Linked DNA regions of Homo sapiens: region 2 is linked to region 1. The links come from fine-mapping of genetic effects on gene expression. A gene starts in region 1. The other region holds a variant in brackets. All regions are shown on one strand. Distances are from middle to middle.

Evidence for each region. PIP is the estimated chance that this variant, and not a neighbour inherited with it, causes the effect.
Region 2: its variant is the best candidate, but not a certain one, in a credible set for the expression of KBTBD3 in tibial nerve (GTEx, PIP 0.62).

The regions. Positions count from the first base shown.
Region 1 is chr11:106,075,883-106,078,801 of GRCh38, reverse strand. KBTBD3 (kelch repeat and BTB domain containing 3) reads left to right here and starts at 1,455. Exons shown (of 4, transcript NM_198439.3): 1 at 1,455-1,490; 2 at 2,095-2,295. It overlaps AASDHPPT (aminoadipate-semialdehyde dehydrogenase-phosphopantetheinyl transferase), which reads right to left and starts at 1,140. Exons shown (of 6, transcript NM_015423.3): 1 at 909-1,140. The coding sequence starts at 1,091. RefSeq lists enhancers at 873-1,112, 1,423-1,532, 1,543-1,662.
Region 2 is chr11:106,133,995-106,136,913 of GRCh38, reverse strand. No RefSeq gene overlaps it. Among named protein-coding and RNA genes, the nearest start is that of LINC02719, 3.3 kb to the right of the region's middle. The variant C/T (reference allele first, on the strand shown) is at 1,740.

The DNA.
Region 1 (2,919 bases):
AGAATATAAGATGACAAAGTATATATTTTTAAAAATATCTTTCAGGTTTTTTTCTTCTTCAATTCTAACACTGACTTTTAAAAACTGCAGGCTTTTAAATGTAGCTTATTTTACAATTCCTTACAAATGAGTAAAAAATTTTCACCAATGTGCCTTAAAAATTATCAACTAGTCTACATTTCAAACAGAAAGTGTTTCAATATGGGACATTTTTAAGAAAGGACTGTCTTTTAAATGATGGTAATTCACGGTTGTTTCAAATTGCACCATATTGTACAGATTACTTGTTTTGAAATCCAGTTTTCCATTTGTTGCTTCAAAATACATAGCTAAAATAAATAAATCTACGTAAAATACTGTTTCCCATGGCATCTAGTGAGGAAGGTATCCTCTCTGGCTTCAATTTCATTGGCTTCAATCCCGGGGAGCGCAGGGCTACAAACTAAATCATACTGTCAATAATTTCTAGGGCCTACCACGTGCAGGGAGTCCTTGGAGAATGATGGGATATTTAACAGGCAGAATAAGCATAGGCTATGAACGCACACAAACAAAAAAAAATAACATTTAAAGATAAAGACATAAAAACATTCATTACAGAAAAACCCAATTTTGTCGGCCTTCCCTACACTTATTTCATGGTTTAGGAGGGTCTCCATTTGAAATAACAAGGGGAAAGAGATAATGTTTACAGCCATCGCGGCCTCCAAGGCGGTTACAAAGGCCGTGGAAACCAGGCCGTGCGTCGCCCACAACTCCGCAGCGCCGGCTGCTGTCGCCCGGGCCGGCCACAGGCTCCACAGCGAGAGGGTCGCGGCCAGCGCGGGAGTGTCGGGTCTCCACAGCCCGGCCCGCCTCCCCCAAGATCTGCTTCCTAGGCTCTAAATACCAAAAAAGACCTGTAGTACCATGGCTGCCTTAGCGTCCCGGGCAAAGACGAACTGGCCAATGCGCTCCTTCTCCTCGGGCTGAATCGATCGCACTGCCAGCAGCCATTCGGCTCGGCTCGGCAGCCAAGTGCCGCAGGAAAAGGCCCAGCGCACGCCCTCCATGGATGGCACCAAGCAGAACCGTTTGGCAGGGAAAACCATACACTGAAAGCGGACCTCGCCGCTATCTCGGGCCTGATGGCGCGGACGCAAACGTGGCCCCACCCCCTTCTTCCCGGCGTCCGTGCGCAGGGGACGGGCCGTCGCTACGCAGACTGGCCCACCGACAGCCCTCCCAGCCCGCCCCCGACTCAGCCACCTCCTCTCGGAGAAAGCAGCTGGGGGCGGAGACGGAGATCAGCCCTGCGCTTTGCGGCATTGTATGACGTCAAGTAGGCGAGGCTTCGGAGGCGAGCGAAGGGCGGGACCAAGGCCAAGAGCCCGACAGTTACGCCACTCACACTTGCGGAAGAGTTAACGGGACAGCGGTGCAGGCCAATCGCAACCAGTCCTCTGGAGGCAGGGAGACTGGGGTGGAGACTTCGGAGACTGCAGTTGCAGGTGGGTGAGCTCCGGGGTCTGAGGGAGGAGTGGGATGGTAGCCCTTATTCTCAGGGTCTGAGTTGGCCCCTGTGACCCACAGAGAAGAGAATGTCCTTGGCTTCAGCTGCTTCGTGTACGGGGCACGAGAGGTTTCCATCTCTAGGAGGGGGTCTGCAGTGGTGCCCCCTGCAGTTGTGCAACGCATCAGCCCTGAGTTCCTTCTTTCCCTGCCCCCATCCGCATCAGCCTAAGACCCACCCTCACACAGTACGCTCCCGACCCTTAGCAGCAGCCTACCTGAAACCCTCCCTCCGAAGGCCGAGCAGAGGCACTATCCCCAGTGCGCAACACTGACCCCGCCTGGATCCGAGGCTGCCAGCGAGCAGCTGAGCTAATGCTGGCTGTTTATTTGGGGCGATGAAGCGACCCAGGTGCTGTTTTGCTATTGCCAAGCCTGGGCTAGAGCACTAGCGAGAAAACAGGATTCCATTGTTGAGGTATCAGTGTTTCCATCATGACAGAGGTCCTTGCTCTAACAGCAACAGAAACAAGTAAATAACTTTGCTCAGTTATTTTCTCAGACTTTGCGAAGGGTCATATTGATGTATGTCTGTTTCCTTAGTTGTTCCGTGTAGGCTGTTGTTGACTCTCGTATGAAAGCCCACGCGATCCAAGTGCCCTGCAGGTTTTGGTCCAGGGAAAAGTTGGTCTCTGCAGATGACTGTAAATGACTACCTGGAGGTCGATTAAAGTGCGGTACTGCGGGATTCAGCCGATTTCCTTCTTCCTCTGACTGCCCGGAAATATCAGCCAAAGGCCAGCGGTAGTAATTAACACAATTACCTGCCTATGATTTCTGTCCTATTTAAGATGGGTTCTATTATGTTTTTATCTATACTTGTCTTCATTAACTTTTCGTGATATCATAAGCCCCCCGAATCCCTCGAAAGTAGATGGGATTCTGAGCACACACACACACAAATTCAGATCCCCAAAGGACAGTAAAACGAATTATTGGCTTAATATATCATCTTAGCTAACCAAAAGCCTGTGTCAGCTGCCATGTTGAAAATCTGCTTACCAGCTGCAGGGAGCTTACAATCTGGTAAGGCAAATAAATCATACGCATAAAAAGTACAATAAGAGACAGTGTAAAGATACGTAAGTGATACTAATACCCATATCAGCAATGATCATAACTCACTTCTCCATTTTTAACTAAGAATCATATAACCTTTCCTTCTTGTCGTTTTAAACTGATTTTTATAACTTTGATACATTACGTTTCTGTTTCCAAAACACTTCTGTGTACGTTATTGCACATGTTCTGTGCACTAGTTATTACTGATGGAGACAATGAGCTCAGAAAGAGAATTTGTTTAAATTCAGGAATTCATATCCCATTATTTTACCATCGAGCAAGATCTCTGTGTATTAGATCTATGGA
Region 2 (2,919 bases), 58 kb before region 1:
TCCATACTGACTCTGTATGAGAACCAAGCCAACTTCATTGGTTTCCATCAAGATGTGCCATCAAGATGTGACTTTGTAGTGGGGTCATTTTACCCTGAGTAGGTGTCAGTGCTCCTGATTACCTTAAATACAGGTGTCTATGTTTTGGCTTAGAATAATTATAAAGAACCTCAGATGCAACTAGGTCTCAAGGAAAGAATAATTTAAAAGGCAACAGAGAAAACACTAAATCCGATCCCAGTGGTCTCAAATATGGTAAAGCAAATCAGAATTCACAGATAGAAATATCCACAAATCCAGTGTGATCAAGAGCATTCTGAGATGCAGTACACTGATTTCAGTAAGTGAAAGATAGATGTAGCTTTTCATGAACAGCCATAAAATCCTTTACAGTTTACAGAAAAGCAGCTATGTACTGATCACAATTTATTATTAGGAGCTTCAAACTCTGTCCAGTGCAGAGATGTAGGGGATGTGATTTTCCTCACCTTGATGTTAAATGGGGACAGATGACAGCCAAGATGAGAAAGTCAGAGTGAAAATCTATAGAAGAGTTCCAGGAACCCTTGTATATAACCTTCCCAGATCAGCTTGACAAAACTGGCAGAGCCAATCTAGAGAGCTAGAGAAAGGAAATGCTGGGGACAGGTACACCTGGAAAATTGGTCCTTGGAAAGTTACCTTTGATTTGCCCTCTGTATAAGCACTCAGGAATATGCTGAGTTTGTTACTAGTTATATACATCTTGTTGGCAAGCAGAAGAAGAGCTGGGAATCTACAGAATAGTCAAGAGAGGCAGGATTAAAAAAGCAAAAGTCTGAGAGAAAGGTAGAGGATACTACTCACGCAAAATTCCTGTCCCAACTGATAGTATCATTGTTAGCACCTTGGTGGGACCCTGAAGACCATTGACAGCTGCCCCTGTGGCTAGAATTGTGGCTGTCTCTACTGATCTGTGTAGCATCTGTATGTTCTTAGTTATATCCTTGACCTACATTAAAAGGAGTTGTTTTAGTTACCAGTATTTATTGGCATCTTTTTATTAATCATATCACAATTCTATTATGACAACAGCAGAAGAAGGTTCAAAGATCTCAAAGTCACACAACTTTTATTAGGTTTTGACAAACAGTACTCACTGATATTTAGCTTCTAGTGCTTCTTACTTGGCTATAATGCTGCCTTATGAAAATACTATACTAAGTGTATGAAAATACTAAGTGTATATTAAAATAAATAACTGTGATATAAAAGGAGGGATTCGGGACCATTTATTGGCCACCACCTATGCCAGATAATGCATATATGTTAACTCTTTATAGCAAACCATTTTATAAAGAACAAAACTTTTGCCATGGGTGTGATTGAAAGACTACATTTTTTAGACATAGTTAGGTGTCGACATATGACTATGTTCTAGTCAATGATAATATAAAGAAAGATTTTTAGAAAATTCTGGGAAGTGTTCTTTAAAGGTGGGATCATGCCATTCTTTGCTTTCTCCATTCTGTTAGTGCATGTGAGGCTGGAACTCCAGCAGCTATTTGGGATCTTTAAGGCAAAGACCACACCTTAGAGGATCAGAGCTGGTTTATGCCCAATCATAAGGATTCTGTACCATACTTCTTGTCTTCTCCTGTATGAGAGAGAAAGATGTTCTTAATATAATTTAGCCAGCATTGATTTAGGGTTTTCATTATATGCCACTGAACATAATTGTAACTGGTAGAAGAACATAA[C/T]TAACATTCCAATTTCACAGACCTAGTAAACAATAAAGGCAGGATTCAAACCTATTCCAAGTCACATCTGAATGAGGCCAAAGTATTCTAGAAAATAATCCAGTGAAGATAAATATGTCTTTTGGATTTAGTTCTCCAGGAAACAGATTCTGAGATAGAAGTTGGAGATTTGAATAGAAGAAACTTAACTGGGAAATTCTATCAGGAACCACCTCCATAAGGACTGGACATAGAAAAAAATGAACTGTGAATTCAGTTGCAATTGAGGATTCAGTAAATCTCATGGGGAACTTCAAAGCTGGAAGACTCTTTAGAGATGTCTCAAATGTAGGGAGGAGAGCAGGTCATTTGAGCCCCACCTTAACCAGTCATTGAATGCCAGCTGTCCTCAGTGAAGGGTCATAGCCTTGGGTGAGGTGGCTCCTGGGAAGGGGCTCTGCTATGAGCCAGCACTAGAGCTAACACTCCAAACTAGAGAAACGAGTGCCTTTGTTCTGCAGTTGTCCCTAGGTGACACCAGAGCCTCCACTGTAATGTGTTCACAATTAATGAGATAATCAAAAGGACTTAAATCTGTTTCAAATATGATCTTAGAACATATGTTCACAGTCACTCACTCACTTCAGTGTGACACATACTTGAATATCCAATGTACGCAAGGTGTTATGCAAACTACGATGACAAATATAAGGATGATTTGGATATATGTTCAGTTCTCAAGAGAACAAAATGTAGATGATAATGATGTATCATGCAAGGCTGAAAATGACATTTGTAATAAAAGAAACAAACATATGACCTGAGAATTCAGAGGAGAAAGACATTATTTCCATCTGAGAAATTAGGAACATTTTTATGGAAATGCCAGCACTTCAGCTGGACCTTGTAAGTGGGTAAGATTGGAACATGTAAAGACAAGAGTGGGCTTATGAGAGGTATTTTAAGGTGAGGAAATAATGGCAACAGAGATGAGTAAGAAGAAAGTTTCGTTTGGTTTAAGTATAAAGTAATGAAGGGAGATAGAAAAACTTCCCATAACAGAAGAAGTTTAAGGTATATTTTGCCAAGAGTTGCAAATTATGGAATTAATTCCATAAGCATGAGGGGTCGCTTGAAGCACTTGGAGCTAGAGAATGACATACCAGAAGCTTTATTTCAGAAATATTAATCTGGATTAGAG